Homo sapiens: one gene and its partners. The protein of the gene in region 3 interacts with the protein of the main gene of each other region in a pairwise test. Each region holds a gene or a part of one and is shown on either strand. Other genes may lie near its edges. The genes, in order: STK36, ABCA2 and CDK5RAP2.

Evidence for each region.
Region 1: the proteins of CDK5RAP2 (region 3) and STK36 interact in a two-hybrid assay, tested with the Homo sapiens proteins (one study listed by BioGRID and IntAct).
Region 2: the proteins of CDK5RAP2 (region 3) and ABCA2 interact in a two-hybrid assay, tested with the Homo sapiens proteins (one study listed by BioGRID and IntAct).

The regions. Positions count from the first base shown.
Region 1 is NC_000002.12:218,688,409-218,696,809, reverse strand, and holds part of STK36 (serine/threonine-protein kinase 36), read right to left. Parts: intron 8,114-8,401; coding exon 7,934-8,113; intron 6,952-7,933; coding exon 6,854-6,951; intron 6,361-6,853; coding exon 6,255-6,360; intron 4,668-6,254; coding exon 4,517-4,667; intron 4,228-4,516; coding exon 4,100-4,227; intron 3,571-4,099; coding exon 3,466-3,570; intron 3,088-3,465; coding exon 2,989-3,087; intron 2,916-2,988; coding exon 2,827-2,915; intron 2,547-2,826; coding exon 2,483-2,546; intron 2,286-2,482; coding exon 2,175-2,285; intron 284-2,174; coding exon 209-283; coding exon of another isoform or gene 176-208; exon of another isoform or gene 1-175.
Region 2 is NC_000009.12:137,005,725-137,011,629, forward strand, and holds the end of ABCA2 (ATP-binding cassette sub-family A member 2), read right to left. Parts: intron 5,831-5,905; coding exon 5,683-5,830; intron 5,586-5,682; coding exon 5,462-5,585; intron 5,382-5,461; coding exon 5,249-5,381; intron 5,014-5,248; coding exon 4,896-5,013; intron 4,648-4,895; coding exon 4,469-4,647; intron 4,401-4,468; coding exon 4,259-4,400; intron 4,180-4,258; coding exon 4,045-4,179; intron 3,921-4,044; coding exon 3,817-3,920; intron 3,739-3,816; coding exon 3,646-3,738; intron 3,330-3,645; coding exon 3,227-3,329; intron 3,145-3,226; coding exon 3,007-3,144; intron 2,899-3,006; coding exon 2,692-2,898; intron 2,241-2,691; coding exon 2,205-2,240; 3' UTR 1,510-2,204; downstream 1-1,509. UniProt on the Homo sapiens protein: Probable lipid transporter that modulates cholesterol sequestration in the late endosome/lysosome by regulating the intracellular sphingolipid metabolism, in turn participates in cholesterol homeostasis.
Region 3 is NC_000009.12:120,569,617-120,578,017, reverse strand, and holds part of CDK5RAP2 (CDK5 regulatory subunit-associated protein 2), read left to right. Parts: intron 1-5,976; coding exon 5,977-6,044; intron 6,045-8,401. UniProt on the Homo sapiens protein: Potential regulator of CDK5 activity via its interaction with CDK5R1. Negative regulator of centriole disengagement (licensing) which maintains centriole engagement and cohesion. Involved in regulation of mitotic spindle orientation.

The DNA of each region.
Region 1 (8,401 bases), on a different chromosome or scaffold from region 3:
CTCCCACTGGATCCCAGGGGACGCAGCGAATGGTTTCCTTCAAAGGGTCAGTACTGAGGGCAGGCGGGGAAGTTCCAAGGCTATCACAGGCACAGTAGCTTGAGAGGGAAGGCTGTGGGTTGCTTCTTCATTCCTCTGGTCCAGAGGCTCCCCAAAATGCCCAGTTCCTCTCTCTTTACTTCCCATCCATCCCAAGATCCATCTGTACCTCAGTGAGGAGCTGCAACAGAAGGATAAGGAGGCCATCATAGAATCCACAACTACCTGGTGGAGTCAACCGAACCTGTCAGAGAGAAACATGAAGAATGCAGGTGCCTAAGAGGAATGGGGTGTCCGTTAAACCAAGGCAGGTCAGTGATGGTGCCATGGAGGGAACAGATTTGAGAGTCAACCGGAAGGTAGAATATATGGGGCCTGGGGGAACCATTTCGGTGGGGGAATAATGGGGAAGAGAGAACAGTCACTGATGACTCCCAAAGTTCTGACTTAGACTTCTGGATGAGTGTTAGTGCTATCACTAGTGATACAACCTCTCTGAAGGCTAACTTAGTCTAGAAAAAGCAGATGAGTATTATTACATTGGTGTGTCTATATTTCAAGTGTGTTGTGGGATAACATGTGAAAATGTTTTATAAATTATAAAGAATTCAGCCACTGAGGTAGCTCACGCCTGTAATCCCAGCACTTTGGGAGGCTGAGGCGGGGGGATCAGGAAGTCAGGAGTTCCAGACCAGCCTGGCCAACATTGTGAAACCCCGTCTCTACTAAAAATACAAAAATTAGCTGGGCATGGAGGTGTGCACCTGTTGTCCCAGCTACTCAGGAGGATAAGGCAGGAGAATCGCTTGAACCCAGGAGGTGGAGGTTGCAGTGAGCCGAGATCACGCCACTGCACTCCAGCCTGGTGACAGAGTGAGACTGCATCTCAAAAAAAAAAAAAAAAAAAAGAATTCTACATATATAAAGATGGCAGGCTGGGCACAGTGGCTCATTCCTGTAATCCCAGCACTTTAGGAGGCTGAGGCGGATGGATCACTTGAGGTCAGGAGTTCGAGACCAGCCTGGCCAACATGGTGAAACCCCATCTCTACTAAAAACACACAAAAAAATTAGCCAGGCATGGTGGTGTATACCTGTAATCCCAACTACTTGGGAGGCTGAGGCAGGAGAATCACTTGAACCTGGGAGGCGGAGGTTGTAGTGAGCCAAGATCGTGCCACTACACTCCAGCCTGGGCGACAGAATAAGACTCCGTCTCAAAAAAAAAAAAAAAAAAAAAAAAGACTGGACATGGTGGCTCACACCTATAATCCCAGCACTTTGAGAGGCCGAGGTGGGCGGATCACATGTGAGGTCAGGAGTTCGAGACCAGCCTGACCAACATGGAGAAACCCTGTCTCTACTAAAAATACAAAAATTAGCTGGGCATGGTGGTGCATGCCTGTAATCCCAGCTACTCGGGAGGCTGAGGCAGGAGAATCGCTTGAACCCAGGAGGCAGAGGTTGCGGTGAGCCGAGATCGCGCCATGGCACTCCAGCCTGGACAAGAGTGAAACTCCATCTCAAAAAAAAAAAAAAAAAAAAAAAGGGATGACAATAATTTGATTATAAAGTCTATCCTTCTTTTTACAAAATGAAGGAAAGATGAGTTCCAAAGGGTCTAAAAATGAAAGGAAGAAAAGTCCTGGGAAAGGAGAAAGCAGAAAGAAGGCTACATAATGGACTGAGTTCCTGAAGAATTCACAGGATGTCAGCCACCTTTTCCATCTGTTAAGAAGAACAAGTGGGGAAAGCAGAGTGGAAGCTGCAGTCAGAGGTGAAATTATGCATTAGGAAGGACTCTGCCAAGAGCATGAGCTTCTGGAGGAGGAGAACGAAGCAGGCAGGGTTCTCACACTACTCAGAAAACTCAGGTTAGTCACCCTTCCTCTTCCCTTCCCTCCCTCACTCTCTAGAAGCTCTGCATATTAAAAAGAAATCTAAAGTCCAGATCAATCTGGGCTCAGAGGGGCCTATCATCCGGCGACAAATCTAGAAAAGGAAGGGCTCCTTGATTCCTTTTCCATTCCTCAGTTTACTCCAGGCTTGCTGGCATTTCAGTCTTTTCCCCTTGAATGCAGTCCTAGTGTCTGACTCAGAGAAAACATGTCTGTGCCCTCCCTGGGGGGCCTCACCTCTGCAGGGGCAGACAAGGCATGTGTGGCTGCAGCCATCCATTCCATGGGCTGGAGGTCAAAGGTCACCCCTTGCTGACCAAGCTGTCCCAATAGACAGGCTGCTGCACTCTGTGGGAGAGGTAAAAGAGGAGAAAGAATGTCCAAATCTAAATGGCATTCAGGACAGGCAGAGAGGATTTATGTCTCTGTCCTGGTCCAAAAGAATGCCTCCAGAAACAGATGCAAATTGGATAGTGACTCCCCCACTTCCACAAGGGGTAGATGCTAGGGTGAAAAGGGGAGGAGGGTGAAGGTTAAAAACTTACCACAAGAGAGACGACATGCGAATGGGTAAAGAGAGTAGCAACGTCACTGCCTAGCTTCTCCATTCTGGAATAAAGAGATACATCAAGGGATGCAGCAGTATTAAAGGAGGTTGGTAAGCGGCCTCCCCTCTCCCTTGCATGGTGTTCTTCACCTAGGCTGCATGTCTACCTCCAAGGCACAAAGTTGATGGGAGTCTAGGTCTGTTCTTTGTAGAGAAAGCTTCACGCTCTCTATCCCAATTCCTCCTAAGGATATGCTGTAGGGTACCATTCCCCATACTCTTTGTGAGGGTTAGCTATGTGGCTAGAAGACTTCTGTGGAGACACCCTACTTTATGACTTACCCACAAGGCAGGTTTTGGAGCCGAAAGACAAGAAGGGAGAGGAAGTAGAGTGTCACTTCAGTAGACTCTTCCCAATCTACTACTTTTACCTACAAAGGAAACCTAAGATATCAGAACAACCTCTGGCTGAGACAGTGGGGCTGCCAGGGGAAGCTGGCTTACCTTGCCCTGAATCAACATAAACAGGGATTCCAAGGCCAGGGGCTCCTGCCCCAGAAGACGGCACAGGCCCTCACTGACAAGGCAGCAGGAGTATAGAACCTGAGGGAGAAGGAAGGAGTCTGGCAGTGAGGCAGGGCAGGCCCCGGGCTCCAAGATTGAAGGCTCAGCGGAAACACCGGCCAGCCCCTCAAAAGATCTGGTACCCACACTTGGGAGTGTGAGAGAACCCCCTTCTGCCTCTTGCTATGAGATAGTGAGACAGGGACCCTTCTCGGTTCCGCTGAGGACTGGCTAACAGTGGGGTCCTCTCAGTTGAACAGATTTAAAAGCAGAAAGGAGTCTTCCAAGGGGGTGTCTCAAATGGTCTCTCTCAGTCTCTCTCTCTTTTAGTCCTCCTCTCTTGGTCTGTTTCTCTGCTTCTCTGTCTGCACTGGGAGTTAAAAATAAAGCTGTGATGCCAGGAGTTAAGAGGATTACCTTGAGAAGGTGCAGGCACAGGATGGGATGCTGCAGGCCAGAGATGAGGGATGGCCTGAGCTGGCTGCTGTCTTCAGTTAGCTGATTTGCCAAATGCCAACAGACCTATAGAGACATACCTGAAGGCTCAATCCTATCCACATGATTACAACCCTATTCCTCACATATGTCCAAAATGATCAGGACTCTCAGTCTCTTCCTAGTCACTCTTCCCACATTCACCAGAAACCTCAGACCCCATTCTATTCCCAGTCTTCATCACCAATAGAGAACCAAAAGTCATGGCCTAGTTTGGCCCCAGTGTAGCCAGGTACAGAGGAAAGGATTACCGACCAACAGGGATCAGGAAAGCTGAATTCTCAGCCCTTGAGGAAGCATCACTGGAGGCTTCAGATCAGCTGCCCCACCATCTGGGCAGTTTATCACTGTGCTCTCTCCCTCACCAACTGGCCATGGGCTCTGGGATTCTGGCTATATCATGTTCTACAAATGGCCCAGGGTGGGAGCATCTGTTTCTGGAAGTACTAAAGGAGGGGCTTAAAAGCTTGTTTTTCTGCCTTTCTGAAAAACTGGGGCTAGCCTCCTCAATTCCTCTGGCAGTAGGATGAGAGGAACAACCAATTGTAGCTCGGACCTGCTCCTTGGCATCCCAGCAGTCGGGCAGTCCCACAGGAGCAGTGCATATGGCTGCCAGGGCAGAGGAAATGGCTCCAGGTATATCCTCACTCTGCTCTCGCAGTGGCTGGCTCACTTGCGGGGCTCCTGTGGAGAAAAGCAAAGAGTAACTCCAAAGGCCTGAGGCTCTTGCCCTAGACAATAGCACCAGTACTCACCGACATGGCAGCAGGAGTAGGGAACCTAAGGGAGTGGGAAGAATGCAGGATGAGGTCTGTTTGTTTCCCTCAGATCCCCATTCATTCTCTCAGTTCACAGTTATTTATTGAGCACCTACTAAATGCCAGGTGCGATCTAGGTGATGGCAATAGAAAGAGCGGAGCCTGACCTATGCAACAAGTAAGTCAAGAGAACCTCCCTTCTCCACTCTGGTTACCTTGGGGAGTGTGGACAGGGAGCTGTGGAACTGTCAAGCCATGAAGGAGCCCATCCAAGACAACCTGCTGTGTCGTCAGCAAGCTGGAGTAAAAGGCTTTGGAGATGGCCCGGCTGTTCCCATCCATGGCTTCGCACAGGACAGTAAAGCACTAAAGGAGAGAAGTGCAGAGGTAGCATCAGGGCATCAGAAGACTGGGCTTAGTGTAAAAAACAAGAAAACCCTGAGGATCTGAGGAAAGAGGACAAAAACCAAAGCAAACACATGTCTAATTTTAAGCATTCTTCACACCAAAAATGCATTAGAACTGCTTTCATTCATGCTTCAAGGACAATAATTTTAGGTGTCAATCCTTCTATTCTCTGATCAGATGCTCCCTAGATGATGTTTCTCAAAGTATTTTTTATAGACTGTGAGTATAAGAATTCCTAGGGGTCAGGTGCAATGGCTCATGCCTGTAATCCCAACAGGGGATTGGGAGGCCGAGGCAGGTGGATCACTTGAGCTCAGAAGTTTGAGACCAACCTGGGCAACATGGCAAAACCCTGTCTCTACTAAAAATCCAAAAAAAATAGCCAGGTCTGGTGGTGTGCACCCATAGTCTCAGCTACTCAAGAGGCCGAGATGGGAGGATTGCTTGAGCCCGGAGGGTGGAGGTTGCAGTGAGTCAAGATCATGCCACTGCACTCTAGCCTGGGTGACAGAGAGACCCTGTCTCCAAAAAAAAAAGGAAAGAAAAGAAGAAATCCTAGGGATTCCTGGGTCCCTCCCAACTCAGTCCTACTGATTCAGAATTTCAGGAGGTAATTATTCCAAACTCCCCATTCTATTCATAGCATATGACATGAGAAGTGCTGGCCAATAGCATGAGTCACTGCTGGCCAAAATTTAGGTTAGACAGTAAAAGCTTTCTGACTTGAAAGGGTGAGGGATATTAAAACAGGATCTCAGACCAGGAAAGTCTGAGTGAATGCTAGCTAAAGGCAAGTAGTAGTCCAGATCTATGTTCCCAATTACCAGTTTTAACAATGACCAGGCAATTATTTACTTCCTTACAAATATATGTTCCTCTCTATCTCCTCTGAGGTTAGTCAGAACACAGCTATTTTCTCATTCAATCCTCCATTCTCCTGTCCCTTACCTCCAGGATCTAGGGAAAAGAACTGCATAGTCTACTAATCCTCAGGACAAACGAGGTTAGACAATACTAGATGATCTGCAAGTCTTTTCAAGAAGAAGTCGTTCTATTTGTGGTCCCCTGAAATATGCCAAACTGCTTAAAGCCTCTGGGCCTTTATATATGTTACTCTTTCTGTATAGAATTTCTACTTTGTGCCTCATTTACGTGGCAAACTGCGATGTATTCTTCAAATGCTAGCAGAGATGATTTCCTTCTTCGAGATTTCTTCTATGATACTCCAAATAGTGTTAAGTGCATCTTCTGCAGTGGTTAACTGCATCTTCTTCATAAAATACAGCAGTGCTCTTGTATTATATGCAAAGTTCTAATGTACTTTTCACTGTTGTCCTTAATCCCTTTACCTCTCCCCTATTAAATTATCCCTAGTCCCTTGAAGGCAGGCACTTTTTCTTACTCACATGGCATATGGCATGGTGGGAATTTAACAAATGTTTGTCATATTAACTTGATCTGACCCTACATAGTCATAAGAAAGGGGATGGGAGAAACACGGAGAATGATAGGAGACACAGAAATCTGGAAGTGGGAGCAGATTACCATAAGGCTGTCCCTCCGCAAAGTCTGCTCAGAGTCATCTGGTTGGGCCAGCAGTTTCCCCAACAGGTCCAGAAAAAGGTTGGCAGCCTCCTGAAACACCTGCAGGCTGGGGGTGGAAAATGAGCCCATGATTTCTTATCTCTCTACTAAAAGCCTGGATGTGGTGAATGGGTCAGTCCTGGGCAGGTAGGAGAATCTCTGCAAAGGGACACATCAGAATGTTCCTCCCTTCTCCCTTGCCACACACACACATACACCCTCCAAGCCCCTTCTTTGCCATTTTCTCTAGGTTATTCGCATATTTTTTTTCTTTCTTTCTTTCTTTAATCCAATTGGCTTCCTGGAATAGGTTATTCACATCTTGACCCTTCCATTTTAGGACCATGGTGACTGCTGACTCTTAGAAACTGTAAGTCTTGAGGCCAAGTTGGAGCTGTCTTAGGGTCCTTAAAAGGACTATGAGTGGCCACTCAGCTGATTCCTAAACCTGTAACAAATCACAGCTTCTTCATACTTGGCCTGTTCCTAAATGGGAAGGGCACTTGGGGTAGAAACAGAAGCCAAACTTGCCAACAATGCAAAAGCACTTCTTATCCTACCTGTCACTTGTCTGGCTCCTCTCCAGATTGAAGGTACAGGCAAAGTAGGCCTGAATCACAGCCATCAGGTCCTGTAAGAAGGTCCCATACCAAGATTGCTGCCCAGGAAAAGGAGAAGAGAGTAAGGGCAATGTGAAGGATGGAAACAAAGAATAGAAAAAACAGTAGAAAGGGTGTATAGAGACCCAGTCAAGTTGATCAAACAGAAAGGGACAGAAGAGAAGTATAGGCAGAGAGAGAGTTCTAGGGGTAACAGAGAATCTGCCAATGGGCTGTGAACAGCCTGGATTAAATGTGTCTTGTTTGGCCTGAATAGCATTTTGGAGTATAGGAGGTTCTATTTTTCAAAAATCTTTTTCTCTAAATTCCTTAAAATCACCCAAGATTAATACTCATCAACAAAGTGCAGCTTTCCAGCTGCCTCATCCTAGGCCCTATTAGGCATTTACACTGACTCTGAAACATTCCCCATCCTCTCAGTCCAGCTACCGTAGGACACAGCAGGGGGAAGTAGAGGTTTGGCCCCAAACACATTGAGTCTCTATCCCAGCTCTTCCACTTGTTATCTCTGTGACCATTTACAAATTAGTGACTGTGTATGAGTTACCTCTGAATTTTAGTACTCTGCTCTGTAAGATCAGGTCAATGAAGCCTAGGATCTAACATTTCAAAGCACAGCGCTCTAAATATTTAAAAATTACACATAAAAATTTGGGTTTCTACCTTTTCTTAGAAAACTAGAAGATCTGGCTAGTTTTCTCAGGCCCATATTTCCCTGTGGCAACAATGGGCTGGAGGCTGAGGAAAGGATGCCTCTACTCTATTTAGAGGAGGCATGTGAACTCTAGTTCATCATATTCCCCACAACTCATATAGTCACATGCATAGCCTACTTCATGGCAGACCTTATCTGCCTGGCCCCAGAAGGCATTAGAGTTTGCAATTAATAGTCTACTAACTAGAAAGAGGAGGAAAGAAAATAAAAGGCAGTCAGACCAAAGAGAGATGGCAATCTGAATGAGATAAATCCAAGAAAAAGAACCTCTGTAAGTCTTCAGAGGCTTCTGGCCTGGTGCTTACCTGCTGGAGGCTGTTGCTCTCCTGACTGTGCCTGAGTAGACTCAGCAGCAGCCCAGGAAGCCCTGCCTCCCGGCAGAAGGAATACAAGGCAACAGAATCACTGCAGCTGGAGAGAAGACTGCTCAGGACCCGGAATGCAGGCAGGATGTGGGAAGCACCCTCCAAGATGCCTTTCAGGATCTGGGTGACATGAGGGAAAGAGGCAACGATTGATATTTTCAGAGGTAAAAGAAGGAGAACTACACATACCAAGCATCCCCAAGGAGCTGGGAAAGCAGACCACATGCTTGCATTCCTTTCTTTGCAAGTCTAAAACACAGAGAAGGAAAGCAGGGAAATAGGGGAACTGTACCAGGGAAGAAGACAATAGATGGTCAGGTTACCTAACACAGAACACCAGTGACCAACGGATAGGGGCCTCTCCTCAGGATCTCTGTCAGACTAAGTGCCATTCCCATCTGCTCCCTC
Region 2 (5,905 bases), about 16 Mb from region 3:
GATGCGGCGTGCGCTCTGCTATTCTCGCAACTTTCCTGAAAGTTTAAAATGTTCTTTTTGCTGTTGTTTTGAGACAGAGTCTCACTCTGTCATCCAGGCTGGAGTGCAATGGCACGATCTTGGCTCACTGCAGCCTCTACCTGCCAGGTTCAAGTGATTCTTCTGCCTCAGCCTCCCGAGCAGCTGGGAATACAGGCGCCCACCACCACACCCAGCTAATTTTTGTAGTTTTAGTAGAGATGGGGTTTCACCATGTTGGCCAGGCTGGTCTCGAACTCCTGACCTCAGATGATCCACCTGCCTCGGCCTCCCGAAGTGCTGGGATTACAGGCGTGAGCCACCGTGCTCGGCGGAAAATGTTCTGAGGAAGATGCTGGGGGGTGTGTTTGCTTTCAATGCTGCATTACACATCATGAAAATGAAACCTCTAGGGACGATGCCCCCGTGAACTGTGTCAGTCTGTGGGCGGCTGTCCAGGTCCAGCCTGGCCTGGTCCTGCGCGCAGGGTCTCCCTGGGCCTCGGCTGGGCCGTGTTCCTTTCTCGACCTCTTTCTGCCATGATTCAGCCCCTACAGTTGCAGGACGGAGGCTGCTGCGGCCTCCTGCCTTCTGGCGGCTCCCCCACGCATTTCCCTTGGCCGACCACCAAACCCACACCAGCCCCTCCAGTGAGCCACTGTTCCTCTCGGTTCTTCCAGAGTGAACCGCCCCCAGGGCCCAGGACAGCTTCACCCCAGTGACCCAGCCTCTCAGGGACTCCAGCATGGTCATCCCACTGCCTCTCAGGTGGTCACAGTGAGTGCCTCATAGGAACCCAAGTGGATGTGTTGGCCCAGCCCACCCAGTGCCCTCAAGCCCATGGGCCCCTCCCCTGTTGTCCCCCATGTGGCACCAGCCCTCAGTGAGTCCACCCTCTACCCTCCTGAGGAGCCTTGAAACGGCCTAAGGCAAGAGTCTGAACTTGGCCCAGATCACGGGGCGTGAGCTCTGGGGGCCATTCATGCCCCTCCCCCATCTCCTGCCCACAGTGTGCCAGGCTCCACCGCTGATGAGCCTCAAAGCTTCCAGGTCCTGCCTCCCTGGGGCCTTGGCCTGTGCCCTGCCCTCTGGCTGGGATGCCCTTCCCTTAAGGAATCTTCACAGACTTCGGTCTCCTCCTGGAGGTCGCCTCTTCCTGGAAGCCCTCGCTGTCCCTTCCATGACACGGAGACAGCCTAGCCCAGGCTGCTGCAGGCCCCACGTGGGCAGCAAGGGGTGAAGGAGGCTTAGAGAGGGCAGGTGGACGGGAAGATGAAGGCTAAGGGGAAGGGGGCCGGGAGCAACCCCTGAGGGTGGGATGAGGGGGACAGTGAACCATGGTGAACCACCCTGCCTCAGTTTCCCTCCTCCAGACCGACCCAGCCACCCCCTGCCAGCACCTGTGCCTGAGGGGCAGGGCCTTCTGGAGCGCTAACCCACCTGATGCGCCCATCCTCCCCACCCTTCCCAACCCACACACGCAGACCCGCAGACATTTTGTTTATTTATTTAAAACAAACATCTGTGCGCTATGTACAGGCCCGGCTCCCAGGGAGGTGGGCGGGCAGGGGGCCAAGCTGGGTGGGAGAGCGATGGCAGCTGGGGGTTGGGGGGGGTCTGGCCCCTTGCCTGGCCAGCAGGGTCAGCTTCTCCATTCCTGCCACCTGCCAGCTGGCCCAAGCTGATGGCTTCCCGCAGGACAGCCACCTCCCTGCAGGAGAGCAGGGCCAGAGGAGCCTCTTCTCAAAGCAAAATAAATACGGGACTGACCCAGCTCCGCCCACAGCCCGCTCTCGGCATCAGCCTTCATCGTAAGAGAGAAAAGCTGGTTCCGAGGCCGGGCAGGAGAAAGGCCAGCAGTGCCTGGTCCAGCCGGCGTCGCCTTGGGCGGTGAGCAGTGCCAGGCAGGGGCGAGGGGCCGGGCAGACCCCGAGGCTTTAAGGCAAAGCAGGGCAAGGGTGTACGCAGCCCGGGCCGGGTCAGCCTTTGGCACAATTAGGGGCGGCAACCGCAGTGACCACAGGGCATGGCCGAGTACAGGGGCTGGAGGACCAGAAGCCCCTTGGTCCTGAACCTCCACTCCAGGCCCTGGCAGGCACTGGGGGACTTCTGTCCCCATTGTTGAGTCCCTGGCCCAGCTCTGGGTGGTCAGTGGAGCGTGTCCTCCCTGGCCCAGCTCTGGGTGGTCAGCAGAGCGTGTCCGTGTTGAAGGACAGCTGGGCCTGTGCACAGGGGAGGTCAGGCTTATGGGGCATCCTGTGCCACCCCCTGCTGGGGCTGAGGACACTTGTGCTGGCCCGCCCCGGCCCTCCTGCAGGCTGGGCCTGGACGCAGGGTCTCCCCACGAGCTCCCTCTGTGTCTGGGCTCTCCCGGGCCTCCGTCTGCCGAGTCTGGGGGCCACTGAGTCTACATCGGTCCCCTGTTCCCCGGCTCTGGTCCCCTCTGCCCCACCCTTGCTCTGTGCCCCTCAAAGACTCTAGCAAGTCTGGACCATGCAGTTACGTCTCTCCAGGCCTATCTGCAAGTGTCCCTCGCCCACTCTGCCCCCTTGACCTCTGGACAGCAAGCATCCTGGGGCCAGTTCTCCCCCGACCCCACCCGCGGCTGGAGCCACCAGGCAGCCTGGGTCCAGTGGGCAGAGCCCTGGACAGCCATGAGAGCAGCCTGCTCACCCGCTCCTCCTCGAAGCTGATGAGGCCCTCGTCCTCCGTGTCCAGGTCCTCGGGCTCGTCTGCCACAAGTGCCCGGAGCTCCGTGGGGGCAGACCGGGGCCGGAGCAGGCTGAGCAAGCAGCCGAGAGGGGACTGCAGTGCGGATGGCGGCTCCGTCTCCTGCTGCTCCAGGTTGTCACTCTGCTTCTTGGCAAAGTTCACGAACACCTGGTGGGTGGCGCAGGCGTGTGGGGAGGGGGCTGGTCTGGGGTGAGGAGGGGCAGGGCGGGTGAGGGGAGGGGCAGGTGTGGTGCGCAGTGCCCTTGGGGCGCTCACATTGTCCAGTGTGGTCTGGCTGACCGAGTAGTCCTCGATGCCCAGCACGCCAGACACCTGCTCCATCTTGCTGAACACCTGGGCCAGCGAGATGTGCTCCGACTTGAGCTGGTACTGCACCTTTGTGTGGTGCCGCTCCTGCAGGGGGGGAGGTCAGAGGCCTGGCAGCGCCCCCCCACCCCGTAGCGCCCCCTCCACAACCCTGCCCGGGACGGCGCACCTTGAGCATGGCTTCCGGGAAGTTGCGGTTGAAGAACCGCACCACGTCCTTCACACTCTGGCTGCTCTTGGTCCGCACCGTGATCATGTAGCCATCTCCAAACCTGGTGGGACAGGCCGGTGGCCCGGAGCCCTGCGCCGCCCAGCCAGAGCCCCAGCCCCCCAGCCTCCCAGCCCTACAGCCCCCACAGGCACCCCAGGAAGCCCCATAGCCTCCCACAGCCCCCCAACCCCACAGCCCCCACAGCCCTCCAGGCTCCTCCCCTGGCCCCACTGCCCCAGTCCCCCCAGCCCCAGTGCCCCCAGCCCCCCTGGCCCCACAGCCCTCACAGCCCTGCAGCCACCCCCACTCCTGGCCCCGCTGCCTGGCCGCCCCCCCCGGGCCCGCCCCAGCCCACCCCTGGCCCTGCCCCGGCTCACCGGTTCTTCAGGTGCTGGATGCTGCCCAGGCACCGCAGGCGACCGTTCACCATGATGGCCAGCCGCGTGCACAGCGCCTCGCACTCCTCCATGCTGTGGGACATGCACAGGCTGGCACCGGAAGGGGTGCTGTGGGGTGGGGGCACAAAGAGGGGGTGGGGGCGCCCTCACCTGTGTGATGTCAGCACCACTGAACGCCCTGTCTTGATGAGGTCAAGGATGAGGTTCCAGAGGAAGCGCCGGGCCTTGGGGTCCATGCCTGTGGTGGGCTCGTCCTGGGGATGGGTGGCAGGCTCAGCTGCTGCCAGGCCCACACACCCCAGCCTGAACGCTGCCCCTGCCCGTGCTCACCAGGAAGTCAAAGGCCAGGCAGCCACCCCCCACCCACCCAGGACTTACCAGGAAGATGAAGGCTGGGTACCCAATGAGGGCGATGGCCGTGGAGAGCTTCCGCTTGTTGCCGCCGCTGTAGGTGCCAGCCGGCTTGTCTGCGTACTTGGTCAGCTCCAGCTTCTCCAGAGCCCACTTCACCACCTGGCCAGGGAACGCAGGTGTCAGTGGAGGCAGGGCCACCCAGCGTGCTGACTCCCTGCCCCGCCCCACAGATCCTCACCCGGGCCTCGTCCTTCCAGGAGATCCCACGCAGCCGCGTGTACAGCTGCAGGTGCTCCCGGGCCGTGAGCTCGTCGAACAGCGCGTCACACTGCGGGCAGTAGCCGAGGCTCTGCTGCACCTGGAGCAGCTCCTTCAGCACGCTGGGGACACGGCAGCTGTCAGCGCGTGAGGACGCGGCGGCCCCGCCCACCCAGGGCTCCCGCCCCACCTGTGTCCATTGACGAAGGCCTCGCCCCCCGTCGTGCTCTCGTCGCCGGTCAGCATCTTGAAGGTGCTGGTCTTGCCCGCACCGTTGACGCCCAGGAGCCCGAAGCACTCGCCAGGACGCACACCCAGGCACAGGCGGTCAACGGCCAGGATACGGCCAATCTTCCGGGACTTGTAGACCTGGCCAGGAGCCTGCCCACTCAGCGGGGCATCCTGCCCCCACCCTGCCCCTCTGGCCCCACCCCACCCAGACCCTGCCCCACCTCCAGAGCCCAGGGGGCCACGTGCCCCACAGCCCCACCCCATGCAGGCCCCACCCCCAGAGCTCAGGGCCCTGCCCACCCAGGCTCCACCTCCACTGCTGGGGCCCCACCCCCCTGGCCCTGGCCTACCCCACCCAGGCCCCACCCTACATGCCCAGAGCCCACCTTGGTCAGGTTCTCAATCTTGACCATGTCATTGTCGGCGTCTCCCCGGAGCACTCGCTGCCGCTCACTGGCCACGTCCACATCATCCTCCACAGGCTTGGTAGACACAGGCATGCGCCTTGGGGGACAGGGTGGACAGTGTCCAGCAGCTCGCCACCCCCACTGCCCCTCCCTGCCACCAGCCTCGCATCCTCTGGCTGTGGCATGTAAGAAGGGTGGGCAGGCCCCTCTGCTGTCCCCTGCCTCACCCCCTCCTGCCCCATCCCTGCCCCCACCCCCGCCCCTACCCTGCCCCACCCCCGAACCCATCCCTGCTCCCGCCCCGCCCCCGCCCCACCCCGCCCCCCACTCACTGTGGCCGCCGCAGGAAGTTGTACTGGCACATGATGGTCAGGAGGAAGCCCACGACGCCCTCAACCGCCATGGCCACCAGTCCGCGGGTGACAATGTCCCACTCGAACGGGGACTTCATCTTGTCAAACTGGCCTGCGGGGAGACAGCTCAGGGCCTGTGCTCTGGGCCTTGCGGGGCCCCCACCGCCTTCCCCGCCCCACGGGCCCCCTCACCAATCTTGGCGTAGTACTCGTTGATGTACTCGTTGTAGGCCATCTCCATGAGCCCGTGGCCCAGGTTGTAGTTGGGGAAAATGAGGAAGCAGCTTTTCAGGTAACTGTTGACAACCTTCAGGTCCTGCGGGGTGGCCGGGGTCAGGGGCACAGGGGTGGCCGGGGTGAGGGGCACAGCCTCCGCAGGGTCCGCCACCCCCACCATGTCGTCACCGCCCCACCTTGTCGTGCTCGAAGAGCTGTAGCAGGAAGGTGGCCACGGTGGCGGTGATGCCGATGAAGAGATTGATGACAATGAGGAACACGTAGGCGGAGCTGGGGACCTCGAACCAGAAGGAGGCCGGGTACATGATGGGCGTGATGGACCACCTGCGGGCAGGTGGCGGGCAGTGGTCACCAGGCAGCCCCGGTCCCACCTGAGGCCGCTCCCCCCTCCGCTTCCGC
Region 3 (8,401 bases):
GATTACAGGCGTGAGCCACCGCGCCCGGCGTGAGAACTATTTTTTAAATATAAATCTGCTCTTCACAGTCTGCTGCTTTATACTTTTAATGCTGCTTATTGCTGTTATCATAACTTCCATTATTATTCTCTCAGATAGCCATTCTTATTTCAGTGCTTTTTGGCCAGACACTTGGGTTTTGGGGTCCCAGGCCTAGCTGGGTTTTAATCCCAGTTCTGCTACTTAACAACCCCTTGATCTGGGGCAAGTCACTCATCATCTGTGAGCCTCAGTGTTTATCATCTGTAAAAGGGGTTGGTATAAAGCCTAGGGTTGGCATAAGGATTAAAATGAATCTTAAAAAGTTTAGCTCAGTGTCTGACCCAGAGTAACTACTCAACAGATCAGCAAATATTCTCCTTTCCCTCATCTCCCTGCCTTTGCAGGACGTAGATACTGCATACATTCCATCTTAACCATTTTAAAGCATGGTTCAGTTGTATTAAATATATTTGTATTATTGCTCAACGGTCACCACTATCTATCTTCGTAACTCTCCATCTTGCAAAACAGAAACTGTGTCCCTGTTAAAACAGTAACTCCCTATTCCCCCCTTCTCCCAGCCTCTGACAATCACCATTCTACTTTCTGTCTCTATGATTTTTTTTTTTTTTTTTTGAGACAGGGTCTCGCTTTGTTGCCCAGGCTGGAGTGCAGTGGAGTGATCTTGGCTCACTGCAACCTCCGCCTCCAGAGTTCAAGCAATTCTCATGGTTCAGCCACTTAGTGGCCGGGACTACAGGCATGCCCCACTACGCCTGGCTAATTTTTGTATTTTTGGTAGAGACGGGGTTTCACCAGGTTGACCAGGCTGGTCTTGAACTCCTGGCCTCAAGTGTTGTGCCTGCCTCGGCCTCCCAGAGTGCTGGGATTATAGGTATGTGCCATTGCGCCCAGCCTGTCTCTATGATTTTGACTACTCTAAGTGTCGCGTATAAGTAGAATCATACACTATTTGTCCTTCTGTGACTGGTTTATTTAACTTAGCATTATGTCCTCAAGGTTCATGCGTGTTGTAGTATGTGTCAGAATTTCTTTCCTTTTTAAGGCTTTTGTTTTTAATTTTTTTTAGAGACAGTCTTGCTCTGTTACCCATGCTGGTCTTAAATTCCTGGGCTCAAGTGATCCTCCTGCTTCTGCCTTGCTAAGAGCTGGGATTACAGACACAAGCCACTGTGCCTGCCCTTCACTGATATTTTTATTGTCCTTTTGATTATAGCCATCCTTTGGGTGTGACATGGTAGGTATCTCATTGTGGTCTTTTTTTTTTTGTCGTTGAGACAGAGTCTCACTCCCTTGCCCAGGCTGGAGTGCAGTGGCGCAATTTCGGCTCACCGCAACCTCTGCCTCGTGGGTTCAAGCGGTTCTGGTGCCTCAGCCTCCCAAGTAGCTGGGACTACAGGCACGTGCCACCATGCTCGGCTAATTTTTATATTTTTAGTAGAGACGGGGTTTCACCATGTTGGCCAGGCTGGTGTCGAACTCTTGACCTCAGGTGATCTGCCCGCCTTGGCCTCCCAAAGTGCTGGGTTACAGGAGTGAGCCACCCCGCCTGGCCCTCATTGTGGTATTGATTACATGTTAATGGCTACTGATGTGTTGAGCATCTTTCCATGTGCCTTTTAGCCATTTGTTCACTTTCTTTGGAGAAATGTGTATTCAAATCCATCGTCCATTTAAAAAACGTGAATATATTTTGACCCAGCAATTCCACTTCTTGTCATCTATTCTAGAGAAATCCTCATACTTGTGCATATGGGACCTTATAAGGACATTCATATGACATTGCATGTAAAAGAAAAACTTGGAAACAAATTGAATTATCATCAGTAGGGGATTGGGTAAATACACATCCTTTCAAAAGTATCTTTCAGACTGTGGCCCGTTGGTAGCTCATGAAATTCAATTTAGTAGGTTGCAACCAGGATTTAGAAAAATAGAACAGAATAGAAAACATTTCAAGGATGAAGGGTAATAATATTTCTTCTGTGGCTCATGGTCAGTAAGGTTTGAAGAACACTGCTGTAGAAAGCTTTGTAGGAGTTGAAAACTTTGAGGCATATCTATTTGTACTGTCATGAAAACATCATGAGGGCATATTAAGTAGAAGAAGGATGTTGTAGCATGATGTATACTGTTTGATTGCATGTGTTTTTAAGCAGCAAAATTGAAACTATCTATGTAAAAACACATAAAAAGTTCTGGAAGTTATAGGTCTTTTTGAAAACAGTGATTACCTCCTAGGCGGGTTCTAGATGGGAGCGAGGAGGAGCCAAGGAGAACTTTAGGCTTATCTGTATTTTTTTAAATTTATGTATTTTTCTCTAATTAAGAATAAAATAGAATGAAAAAGGGGTTGTTAAAAGACAAAAGTGAGTTTGTTTGTGTAATCGTTGTCAGAATGTGATATCTGGTCTCATCCATGACTCTCATGAAACAATTTGTCAAGGAGACATAAGACCCCTTGGGTCTTATGGTTTGAGTGGACAATTGTTGCTGGCATATGTAGGCATAGAAAGAGGTCAGTCCTTTTCGGTAGCAATAGAGCAAGATAGGAGGATGAGGTGGTGGAGCTCAGGTGAAGGTCCATTCAGTCACTCAAAAATTATCCACAAACAGTTGCTACAGCTGGGCGCGGTGGCTCACGCCTGTAATCCTAGCACTTTGGGAGGCTGAGGCGGTCAGGTCACCTGAGCTCAGGAGTTCAAGACCAGCCTGGCCAACGTGGTGAATCTCCATCTCTACTAAAAGTACAAAAAATTAGCCGGGCGTGGTGGTGCATGCCTGTAATCCTAGCTACTTGGGAGGCTGAGGCACGAGAATCGCTTGAATATGGAAGGTGGAGGTTGCAATGAGCTGAGATCACGCCACTGCACTCCAGCCTGGGCGATAGAGTGAGAGTCTCCAAAAAACCAAAACAAAACAAAACAGTCGTTATGATGGCTGTGCCCTGTGCTGAGTGATGGAAATTTTATGCCTCAGTCCATTCGGCCCTTAACCACCACCACACCCCTGCCACCCCCAACCTCCGGGAAGGCGTCAGGGGTACCAGGGTGGTGTAGGTTCACAGCAGGGGGTTTAAAGTCAGGCTGGCTTGGAGTTTCCAGCCTATTAACTTTTTGGTCTTTGTTTCCTCATTAAAAAAAAAAAAAAAAAAGGCAACATTAAAAAGTACCACCAGCCGCAGAAAGACTATAGTGAGGATTAAACCTGATTTTAGTTTCAAACATTCAGTTTAGAAAATGGACTTTAATCCTGTGGTGAGGATGAAAGGGAAGGCTGCCTGTCCTGTGCTGAGTGTGGTGCTTGTGCAGCATGGGTGCCCCATACAAGGGCAGGTTTCTTAGATTGTGCTTTATTTTGCACGTGAGGAAACTGGTACTCCACCATGTGTCACATTTATATAGGAGCTTTGGGCAGTCCACACACAGGCTAGCAAGTGGAAAAGACACTGGGATCCTGGATTTTGGGCTTGGCTTTGCCACTAACTTTTGTGATTTTGAGTAAATAAGTTCCTAACCCATTTCTGGGTTTCAGTCTTCTCATCTGTGGAATAAGATCATATCTGAGCCCTTTTGTTTTGCTTACATTGTCATTTCTCGTGAGTATCCCTGAGGCCCCAGCCTTAATTATAAGGCTACAAGTGAATGATTAGAATGGAAAGAGGGAGCTGCTTGTGGCTGGAGGTGTAGTTGGAACTGACTGGAGGGTGCAGATGACAGATTCATAGCATTTTAAAAGTGGGTAGGTAAAGCCCGAGTGGAAATTTGGCAGGATCCAAGCAAAAATTTCTGCATTACATAGTGGTTTTGTCTAAGAGTTGGGATGTCAGATGTCATTTTTCAAACTTCAGTGTTTGCCTGTAGGAAGCTTGTCTAAGACCAGAATCTTTGGCTTTGTTTGCTAGGTACTTTTCAGCTGTGATTGATCTTGGCTTGAGTTATTCATGGGCAGTTTTAGCCAGTGGGAGTTAATGTAATGGCTCTGGTACCCGGAGAGAACCCCAGATTGAGAATGCAGGACCAGACCTTAGGCTGAGCTTGGCCAATAACCTGGTGTATGTGACCTTGGGCTTCTGGACCACCATCTGCAAAAGGTGATGGTTGAACTTGATTTTAGTTTTTAAAATTCAGTTTAGAAAATTGACTTTGTCCTTTTAGTGATGTTTATTGGAGGAAATTGAGAATTATATAACATTAAAAAGGAAGAAAACCTCTCATTTCCCTACTAATGATGATTTTTAATATTTCAGTATATTTCCTTTGTCTTGTTATATATCTGTAGCCCACCTATTTCCAAAATGGACTTGAGGTGACTTCAGTATTTATGTACTGTATATATTTGTTTTCATAATTGAGGACATATTCTGTTTACGTTTTTTCATTTACCTTTACAGGGGACACTTTTTTTTTTAAATTTTTTTTTTTTTTGAGATGGAGTCTCACTCTATCACCCAGGCTTGAGTGCAGTGGCATGATCTCAGCTCACTTCAACCTCTGCCTCCTGGGTTCAAGTGATTCTCCTGCCTCAGCCTCTCAAGTAGCTAGGACTACAGGCACCTGCCACAATGCCCGGCTAATTTTTGTATTTTTATTAGAGATGGGGTTTTACCATGTTGGCCAGGCTGGTCTCGAACTCCTGATCTCAAGTGATGCACCAGCCTTGGCCTCCCAAAATACTGGGATTATAGGCATGAGTCACTGCACCCAGCCCGGACACATTTTTTTGTGATCATTTTCTTAATGTTGGAATTTTATGATATTTCCAATTTTTTGCCTGTTTTTGATCTTGAAGGTACATTCCAACTCCAAAGTTTGGTGGTCAGGCAAAATTATCCTAGGAGCACAATGAATTTGGATTTAGAGGCATGGAAAGAGCAAATTGCCAAGAAGTCAAGCTGTTTCCATCAACTCCTACTTTACAGTGTGGGATAGGGAAGTATTCGTGGGAGTTGGACATAAAAGACCTGGCTTCTGGACCTGGCTCTCCACAGAACCGCCATGTGACCCTGGCTAGGACAGTAAAATTGTCTGGGCCTTGGGGCCTTCCTTTGAAAAATGTGTGCACCCTCAGGGAATTAGGCAATTCTAATGATGGTAAATCTTTTATAAATTGTAAAGCACTGTAGGTTTCAAGGCGACATGATATTTTGCTCCCATTTGTGGAGTACCCACAAGGTACCTTGCAATATCTTGTTTAATTGCCAGTTACTCTGTGAGGTAGCTGCTGTACTCATTTTACAGCTAAAGAAAGTGAGGCTCAGAGAGATACATGGCAGAGCTTAGAATAGATCAGGGTAGTGTCTTTTGTGTCACACCACACCTCCTATTATGGGTTAGTTTTCTGTCAGTGTCTCCAGATCCTCACTGAATTTATTTATGTAATTCAACCAAGACAACTTCTTGGATCAGTGAATTTTGCATTGTTTGACATTCTTAAAACATCTAAATTGGTGTCTGATTCCCAGAGGTGGTGATAGGCATATTAGTAGTCATAATGATAATAGTAACAACAACAATAGTTGCCGTTTACTGAATACTTACTATGTGCTTTGTGTTTATATACATGAACGAATTTAATTTTTACAGGGAGGGCATGGTATCCTCATGTACCAGATTAAGAGGGTGAGACTCAGAAACATAAGTATCTTGTACTTGTCACAGTGCCTCTGCCACTAGCACATATTTGGCACACAGAACATTTGATGTATGACTGAATGAATGATGTTACTGAAGGTCACTCAGCTATCAAGTGTTGGAGCTGGAACTCAGCCCCAAAGCCTGAGTTCTTAACCTCTGTGCTTCATGCCACATAGGTAGCCCAGCTGTGTGCATCCCTCCTGGCCATGGGATGATTGTCATGTGCAGTCCAGACCGTCTTAACAGTCTCTGTTGTTCAAACATTAGCTCATCTCTTATCTCATGTGTTCTCTCCTAGTGGCCTTGTTCCCAGTGTACCAGATGACCTGGATGGCATCAACCCCAATGCTGGGTTGGGAAATGGTCGTAAGTACACAAAACCAGGCATTCTCTTGAGTAAAGAACAAGGAAAGTAGACATTGGACTGTGAGCATCTTGAGCTTTCATATCTCTGGGGCCCAGAGGCTTCCCTGAACTGGCACACCGTAGGTGCTCAGTATTTTTTGTATGTATTGATTTGCTTTCCACCTCCTTTCATAAACACTGGACTAGAGGAATTGTTGTCCTTTTGGCCATACTTCATGAGTTTCATTTGTTGCTACTAAAGCTATAGGGATTCAGTGAGCGTTTGCTGAACTGAACAACTGCACGGAGGCTGGACATTGAATTGGCAGCTAGGCCAGTGGCTGGAGGCCCAGGAGAGCTGCCATCTGGACTGTAGCGTGCCAAGGCCTTCCTGGCAGGCTGCTGGATCCTGTTTGCCGGCTGAGGCCCCGCATTCCTACACGGGCCTGCCCTTTGGAGACAAATAGCTGGTTAGACCACAGGAGACGGCTCTGAGTAAATAAGTAGCGTACTGTGTTTAAGCTGGATTATGAGGAGACTTTGCAGTTTGGGTCTAGCTAAGCATTCTTCATAATTTTTATTTCTGAAAAAAGTGAATGCTTAAGCGTCTCTGTGGGTAGTGCTAGTTTTTGCAAAATATCTCTAAGATATTTTGACTTGTTCTTTTTTTTCTCTTCTCCACAGTGCTGAGATATGTGCAAGAGGAGGGAGATTTTGGAGCAGACAGGAAAAGAGTCCCACGGTTTATTTCTGGAAAATCCCTTAACTTACAGGGCACCTTCATGTTTTCCTGAGGAACCTATTAACTTTTACTTTATTTTTACTTTTTATTTTTTTGAGACATGGTCTTGTCCTGTCACCCAGGCTGGGAGTGCAGAGGTGCGATCACGCACACTGCAGCCTTGACCTCTTGGACTCAAGCAATTCTCCATCTCAGTCTCCCTAGTATCTGGGACTACAGGCGTGTGCCACGACACCTGGCTAATTTTTGTATTTTTTGCAGGACGGTTTTGCCATGTTGCCCAGTCTGGTCTCGAATTCCTGGACTCAAGTGATCCACCTGCCTCAGCTTCCCGAAGTGCTGGGATTACAGGCATGAGCCACTGCACTCATTGGCAACTTTTACTTTAAATGCAAAATCCAACAAGTCTGATTTGAGATGGAGTCTCGCTCTGTTGCCCAGGCTGGAGTGCAGTGGTGTGATCTCGGCTCACTGCAACCTCCGCCTCGTGGGTTCAAGCAATTCTTCTGCCTCAGCCTCCCGAGTAGCTGGGATTACAGGCACGTGCCACCACACCCAGCTAATTTTTGTATTTTTAGTAGAGACAGAGTTCACCATGTTGGCCAGGCTGGTCTCGAACTTCTGACCTCAGGTGATCCACCCGCCGCAGCCTCCCAAAGTGCTGGGTTTACAGGCATGAGCCACTGTGCCTGGCCAGCCTATTTCTTAATTTAGCCGATAGTATACATTTGCTTCATGCCAGACTCTGGGCTCAGTGCTAAAATTCAACCTCAAATGTGGTTACTGTTAAGCTGAGAAGACAGACAAACCCTTATGAGAATTTGTATGGTCAGTGTCAGGAGCAAAGATGTATCAAGTGCTGTGAGAGGGGATTAAAGGGAGATTTCCTCTGGTGTGGAGGTGGGTCAGGCTAGAGTTTCCCAAGAAATTGATATTGGAGCGGAGACCTGAATAAGTCAGATGTAGGTAAGGAAAAAGGAGGGGATGAGCATCCCAGACACAGGTGAGGGCATGGCCCGTTTGAGGAACAGGAAAACAAACTAGCGTGCCCTTCACAGTCTGCCCTGCCCACTCCTTAGCCTCTTTTCTGCTAAGTGGTTTCCGAACACCATGCCCACTCCCACCTCTGTGCTTTTGCCTGGGCTGTCTCTCCTTCCTTTTGTTTCTCATCTGCCCGGTGCCTCCTTGCTCCCTCTTTAAGACTCAGCTCAAAGCTCACCACCCTTTTTGGCTCTCCCCAGGCTGACTAAGGTGTACTTTCCTCTCTCAACATTGTGTATTTCACTTCATCTCATCTCATTTCATTTATTCCTGTTGGCTACTTTTAAAGTATCGGAATCAGACTAGTTCTCACCCACCTATACTCCTTCCATCCTACTCCAACCCACCATGATCTGCGGCCTAGATTATCCCAATATTCTCCTAACTGGTTTCCCTGTTTCTCTCCTAAGCCCCTTACAGTCTGTTCTCAGAAAGGCAGCCAGAGGGAGCCTGTAGAAACCTAAGTCGAATCATCTTACTCCTTAGCTGCAAACCTTCCAGCAGCTCCTCAGAGTCCTTAGAAGAGCCTAAAAACCGTATACAGTCTGTCCCTGTTTACCTCTCTCACCTCCAGTCCTGCTATCCCCCTTTGTTT